Linked DNA regions of Homo sapiens. The protein of the gene in region 2 interacts with the protein of the main gene of each other region in a biochemical or structural test. Each region holds a gene or a part of one and is shown on either strand. Other genes may lie near its edges.

What was found. Proteins that work in one complex are often made in the same cells at the same time.
Region 1: the proteins of PRKD1 (region 2) and BTK form a complex in vitro, tested with the Homo sapiens proteins (one study listed by BioGRID).

What each region holds. Positions count from the first base shown.
Region 1 is NC_000023.11:101,383,392-101,387,413, forward strand, and holds the start of BTK (tyrosine-protein kinase BTK), read right to left. Parts: upstream 2,801-4,022; 5' UTR 2,671-2,800; intron 1-2,670. UniProt on the Homo sapiens protein: Non-receptor tyrosine kinase indispensable for B lymphocyte development, differentiation and signaling. Binding of antigen to the B-cell antigen receptor (BCR) triggers signaling that ultimately leads to B-cell activation.
Region 2 is NC_000014.9:29,595,848-29,599,347, forward strand, and holds part of PRKD1 (serine/threonine-protein kinase D1), read right to left. Parts: intron 3,279-3,500; coding exon 3,180-3,278; intron 1,912-3,179; coding exon 1,644-1,911; intron 1,630-1,643; exon of another isoform or gene 1-1,629.

The DNA.
Region 1 (4,022 bases), on a different chromosome or scaffold from region 2:
ATACATACTGCCAAAATAGTTTCCAGAAACATTGTCCCAATTTCAGTTCCAAATAGTTTTAGAGAGCCCCCTTTCTCATTATCCTTATCTCTTTTCTGGTCCATTTCTAATCATTTTTAAAACTCTGGTTTTACTGCAGACAAATCTTTTTTTTTTTTCATTGAGTCAATGATCTTAAACTCCAGTATATTCCAACTTCCAGCTTGTCTAAAACTTAACTTCTCTTGACTCTAGAATTTCCTTCTTCTAGGGTGAGCTAACAGACTACAGTTTGTTTTCAGTTCAGGGAGGTAGGGCAGTGAGAGGAGCTTCTCCTTGAGATTCAAATAACCAATATAATCCTAAAGACATCTTGTGAGAACTTTCTAAGAGCGGAGAGAAGAGCCTGGTATTAAAGCTTCTGGGTTTCCAATGCTCTCAGATTGCCCTCAGCCACTGCACATGAATCTCCATAGAAACTGAAAGTCACACGTGGCCCAATTGTTTCAGGGTCCTCAGAGGAGTTCTCCCTCCTCCTTCCCCTCCCCAGATGGCTTCATGCATAACCAAGTAGCTTTGGAGTCAAATATGTCAAGGCCTCTTTTCTAGCTTCTTGCTGAGCACTGTGTCACTGAAAATTCTAGTTCTTCCTTATTTTCAGTAGTTAGCAATCAGATCTCAGCAATCAGATCATTGTGGGTGTAGAAGGGGGTATCTGATAACTCTTTGGAGAACGCCCAAACTTTGGTTTTCGAAAGCTGTATCTTCCCTTTATACCTAAGTCACTTCCTGATATGGGTCTAGTCCACTGAAAGGAAACTCTATAGGAAATTTGCTCAAATGGAAATAGCAAATCATAGTGATAATTTAAAATTGCACCAATCCCCCATAACTGGATGGAAAGTTACATTAGTTCGCACCATAAGGAGTTTACAAAGAATTCCAGGGTGGGTGCGGTGGCTCACGCCTGTAATCCTAGCACTTTGGGAGGCCCAAGCAGGCAGATCACCTGAGGTTGGGAGTTCGAGACCAGCCTGACCAACATGGAGAAACCCCGTCTCTACTAGAAATACAAAATTAGCTGGGCGTGGTGGCACATGCCTGTAATCCCAGCTACTTGGGAGGCTGAGGCAGGAGAATTGTTTGAACCCGGGAGGCGGAGGTTGCGGTGAGCTGAGATCCCGAGATCGTGCCATTGCACTCCAGCCTGGGCAGCAAGAGTGAAACTCCGTGTCAAAAAAAAAAAAAAAAAATTCCAAACAAAAATATCAATAGCCATACGCAATGGAAATTTGGACTTCAACACAAGCAAGCAGTTTAAATAGTTTGAATATAAAAGGAGTCAGAATAGACAGGACAAGCCCTAAGGGACACTGTTTGGGTATAATGCTTTAGGTTGCCATGAGTATTTGCATTTTGTGGCTTATTTGGAAAGTGACATTATTTTATCAAATAACTGAGGCTCCAGAGAGGCTGGAGTCTGGGCAACTTATCCAAGGATGTCTTGATTGGGGTCACCAATCACTTTTATTCTAAATGTCATATTATTTGCTCTAGGTAGGCCCTCTGGGGGACATTGGCAGGTCTGAGGCAGAGTAAAAATTATAGCAAATACTGAGATCCAGCACTTACTATTGCCAGGCCCTGTTTTAAAAGCTTTACATGTATTTGCACATTTACTGCTCACAACCACCTTATGGGGAAGGTGCTAGGCAGGCAGGGAGGAGGAAATGGAAAGGGAAAGGAAAAGGGAAAAGAGCGGGGGAAGAAAGGAGCAAGAAAAAGTCAATGCAATTCGGCAATTATTTGTTAAGTGCTAACTGTATGTCAGGGTCTGGTAATCAACAGAACAGAGGAGGGTATAATGAAGAGGGGATATAGGTAGAGAAAAGAGGATGAGTGGGAAGAGGAGGAGGTTGGAGAGGAGGAAAGGAAAGGAGAAATAATGAAGACAAGAGAAAAGCAAGCCATGCACATGGAGGGCAATGGTAAGAGGAGAAACCTTTGCCACAACCTCAAGGGTTGGCCGCACTGTCTGGGCTGAGGCAGAGGCTGCTTTCTCCTGGCCCAGTCTTTTACCCATTGTTACCACGAGGTTGGCACAGCTTCCACACAGTCCTTTAATAAGCCAGCTCTGACCCTGGCGACATTTGGCCTGGTACAGCTCAAGGCAGGTAGCCTACACCCTGGCCTAGCCAGGCCTTTCCCTAGCTCACAAAGGTCAACTTCATAACGTGGAGCGTGAGCTTTTACCATGTTCTCAGAGAATCTGCCTCTTAGTATTTCTTTTTCTAAAGGCTTCATTGACCCATGTATCCCTATTGAGTCTTCAAGCACTATTTGACAGAAGGGCTTGTTTTTATCTGACTGCTCCCTGCAATATTACTTTTCCACTAAGTTTGCCAGAGGTACCCCTTTCTAACATTTGCTACCTGTTCGGATGGTCACCTCATGTCACATTTTTCTCTTCCTGTTCCGCCCACCCTCAGCCCTTGTCGGAAAGGACCCTTTCGGCCTCTCTAATCACCAGAAGGGACTGCCAGGGCCTTGTGCTGATGACACTCCCACCCTCCGTCAGCCTCCTCCACTAGCTGATAAATGGCACCAGCCATGCTGTCTCTCTGGTTTTTAGGGGTCCCAAGCAAGGTACATTGCTGCTGCTGCCCAGCCCCTGCCATACCCCAGACCCACCTCAGTCCTGACTTAATGCAGGTAGCTTCCCAGATGCATTGAGATGCCAGGACTTGGAAGGTGGGACTCGATCGCAGCAGACACTGGCCCTGGAGACATATTCTTACAGTCCAGAGAGGAAGGACAGTCTGAGCAAACCCCACCCTTTCACAGCCACTCAGTTCCCTTTTTTTGCTTCCTGACCTAAACCAATGTCTTTTTTTCTTCTCAGCAGCATGCTATCTGGTTCCCTGCTGCCGTCCCTATTCCACCCCCTCAACTGTCCCCGCCCTTCATTTGCTTGGGACCTCTGACACTACTATCTTGAGTCTATCTTTGAAAGAACCTTTCTCAACATGACTGGGGCCACTGAGACTCTAGATGGGGCTGGCCTGAGCAGACAGGTCATCAAGCTATCCTCCCAGAGGTAAAGGGACAACATACCTAAAGTACTATGAAGACAGTCAGCACAGGGAGAGGGGCTTACAGGAAAGAGGAGAGATGCTGGGGGCTGGCAGACACAGAGCAAAGAGACTGGCCAGGAAGAGCGTTTTTCGAGTCTCCTGTCCTCCGGGGCAGAGGAGTCTCAGGGACACACAGTTGAACTTGATAGTGAAGGGACCCCAAAGGACAAAACAAGACAGAGGTAGAGACAAGACTTCCCCGTGCTGAGTCATTTTCTAAGAAAGCATTTTTCCCCTACAGATAAAAATGTCGGAATATAAGCCCACAGAAATACTTGTGCCCTTCCCCATTTTCTGTGGATGTTGACTTTCTCCATTTAAGATTTGGCCTCAGGGATTAACTCTCAATGTCCACCTTTCTCTTGAGTCCTGTAAACCGGTAAAGCAGACTAGGTATGTCACTTGAAGCCTGGAGGTTTTCTCAGGGGCCCCCTACATTATGCTCCAACTGCAATGATTCCCCCAGGGATTCTCCTAGGAAATGCAGCCAGTATTGAATGCAGACCATGATGGTGGAGCCCCTGCTGACTGATCTGCCTGCCCACCTTGACACCTCGGGCACTGCCATATTTCCTTGCCCCAAGGCACTGTATCCTAATGTAGAAACAGATCACAGGTCCCACTACAATTTCATCCGAAGTTTTAAGTCAACAGGACCTTATTTTTTTTTCTTTATTTTGTCTAAAAAACAAACAAACAAGCAAACAAAAAAAATGGGGTATATGTGCAGAAGGTGCAAGTTTGTTACATAGGTATATGTGTGACATGGTGATTTGCTGCACCTATTGACCCATCCTCTAAGATCCCTCCCCTCACCCCCAAGCCCCAACAGGCCCTGGGACCTTTTTTTTTTTTTTTTTTTTTTGAGACAGGGTCTTGCTCTGAAGCCCAGGTTGGAGTGCAGTGGCG
Region 2 (3,500 bases):
TGGATTTCTAGATGAGCAATATCAAGCATAATGGTTAGCTGTATTTAGATGTAATGTTTCCTAACAAGGGTACTGGTCACAAGGTTATTTGATAATTCTCTCTGTCTCCTGGGAAAGAAACTTAATTACACTTTACTTTTCATCTTTGTTGAATTATGAAAAATATTTAATTATTCCTTTGGCACACATGATAGCTCTTTTGTAGGCCACAGGTTCCTTTAAGATATATCCATCCACCTATGATTTACAACTAATTAGAGGATGTTAAAGGTTGTTGCTAATGGTAACTTAAAGCTCTGATAATGGATAGCTCTTGTCATTTAATACCAATAGCAGTCTAATAACTTAATTTCTCCTAAGCGGTTTGTACATTCTTTTCTCATTTCTATACCAACATATGCAGTAACAGGCATCACATAAGAGATGTTTACAAATGTACTAGCCTTTTCACATGGTGAACATCTGAACAAACAGAATGAACCTAGAACTAGATATTGCCTGTAAACTAGAAAAGACGTAGGGCTAGTACTGAAAAAAAGTATGTTCAGACTACCTGGGTAAGAATTATGCCCCTGCTACTTACTAGCTTTGTATTTTGACCAGTGGTGTCACTTCTTTTTTTTTGAGATGGAGTCTTACTCTGTTGCCCAGGCTAGAGTGCAGTGGTGCAATCTCAGCTCATTGCAACCTGCACCTCCCTGGTTCAAGCGCTTCTCCTGCCTCAGCCTCCTGAGTAGCAGGGACTACAGGCACGTGCCACCACGCTCAGCTAATTTTTGTATTTTTTAGTAGAGATGGGGTATCACCCTATTGGCCAAGCTGATCTTGAACCTCTGACCTCGTGATCCACACTTGAAATATAGCCATCATAGTAACACCTATCTTATAGAATTTTTATGAGAATTAAATACACTCCAATGTATGTTAAAGGAGGAACTCCTTTCCGAAGTACTGAATGAGTCACTTTCTCTGCCCTGTCAGCCCCTGCAATTTCTTTTAAACAATCTTTTGTCCTTTAAGAGGAAGGAAATATTTATTAAGAATATAACTCTAAACAATGCAACACTGTCAAGGTAATCTATTCTAAAGAAATCATCAGAGATATATATAGGAATGATACATCAGGATGTTCTAATACTAAACATAGAGAAATAACCTAAAAATTCCAGGGGAATGGCCAAGTAAAATATTATACATATTTTAATGCCACACAAAGAAAACCAGTAGACAAAGAACTTGGTATACTAACATATGTTATATGATCATTAAAATATCAATGTCATAACATTCTTGTGTTGATAATAGTTTAAAAGTTTTTAACACAGAACTAGGCACATATAAGTAAGCCCTTACTAATAATTCATTATTACTATTATATTAAGGTATAAGTATTTATAAGTTCTAATGAAATGTACCAAAATACATTCTCTCTGGTTGTTCACTTACTTCTTAATATATATAACCCAATTTCTGTTATGTGTATGTGTCCCACCCAAATTAATTCGTGTCTTTGTGTCTCCACTCTGGTGGGCACTTTACAATGAGCATGTATTAAGTTAATAATTTACAATTAAATTAATTTAAATTAATAACATAAACAAATAAGGATTAGATTATTATCATTTTTGAATGGAAGATATTACCTTCATGAGATATTTCCTTCCAGGGATTTGGTGGATACATGAAAGCTGCATTCTGAATTTGGTCGTGTATGTCTTCATCTTCATTAAATGGGAATGTGCCGCTTAGGCTTACATAGATGATGACCCCAACAGACCACATGTCTAGAGAGCGATTGTAGCCCTTGTTCCTTAGGACCTCAGGAGCCAGGTAAGCGGGGGTACCCACCACTGACCTCCGGAAAGACTTCTCTCCAATGATCCGGGCAAAACCAAAATCACAAAGTTTCACCTGTTGATGAAAGGATTTGCAGAAATACTCCGTTCACAATTGTGTGTCTGTGTGTCTTAGTTCAGATTCACCAGATACAACCATAATATTTTAAATACTTTACCTTTACATTAAATGATATGGATTTCTTAAAGTAATAGCTATTTTCCATTTTAGGTATTTGAAGACAGTGGTTTATGTAGTGATACAAAAGTATGTTTTCATTCATAAAAATATCATCTAAACAGTCTCCCTTGGCAGGGTGCAGTGGCTCATGCCTGTAATTCTAACATTTTGGGAGGCTGAGGCAGGAGGATTGCTTGAGGACAGGAGTTCAAGACCAGTCTAGGCACATAGTGAGACCCCCATCTCTACAAAAAATTAAAAAATTAGCCCGGCGTAGTGGTGTGCAGCTATAGTCCCAGCTATTCGAGAGGCTGAGGTGAGAGGATTGATTGAGTCTGGGAGGCAGAGGTTGCAGTGAGCTGAGACTGCACCATTCCACTCCAGCCTGGGGCAACAGAGTGCTCTGTCTAAAATAAAATAAAATAAAATAAAATAAAATAAAATAAAATAAAATAAAATAAAAATAAATGAAAAAATAAAAACAGTCTCCCTCCTCCAAAAACCGAGAGACAAATATGAAGACAAGTGTACTCAGAAGTGGGTAATATTGTATACAAGGCAGGAAAGCGTTATGCAAATCTGGGAAGTGATGACCTTCACTCAAGCGCTTATTATGAGAAGAAGATGAAGGATAAGTACAGAGATGTGTCATGTCATCCACAATAATCCTCAAAATTAGCTCTGCACTGGCACATATATAGGCAGGACCGGAAGGTGTTAGGGAAGCAAGGCAGGACAGTCACATCAGTCAAGTCACTTCAGACCTATAATTCCCTGCGGAGATAGCTGGTTTCCCACTCTCTAAGTTGAGGAAAGGAAAAAAGTTTTGCCCTTGTCCTTGAGAACAACAGTGAGGTTTAATATCTTGCCCATTAATGAGCAGGTAACATCTCTGGGACTCTCAAGTGTTGTCACTCTCAGGCCACTTCCGGAAAAGCCAAAAGGCAGAATGAGAAGGCACTTTTGTGTATAATTAAGGCATGCTTCACCAAAAGGCCAGAGTAACAAGGCCATAGTCCCAAAGTAACAAATGAATAAAAATGGATAGAAAACACTTGAAACAAATAAAGGTTTTAAGGGAAAAATGGAAGGTGACAAGATGCTACATGGAAGCTAGCAATGCTTCCAACTGGCTTTTTGCTGAGAGAGGCTTTTATACTTGCCTGAGGAAAAGGATCAGCTGAGGCTAGCAACACATTTTCTGGTTTGAGGTCACAGTGAACGATATTTTTAAAATGAAGGTGCCGCAAAGCCACGAGTATCTGTAAAGAAGAATCACCAAAATTTCATTCCAGTTTATTAATTTCAAAATGTCTTCTACCAGTTAAAAGGCCAAGAAAAAAAACTGACAATGGACATTCAAATTTCTTTATGTTAAAGACACTGAAATGAGCTAGATTAACATAGGTTTCTAAAGAAATTTCAATGAAAAAATTACCATATGATGGTATTCATACAGCGGCCAAGACAGATGTAGATAAAAG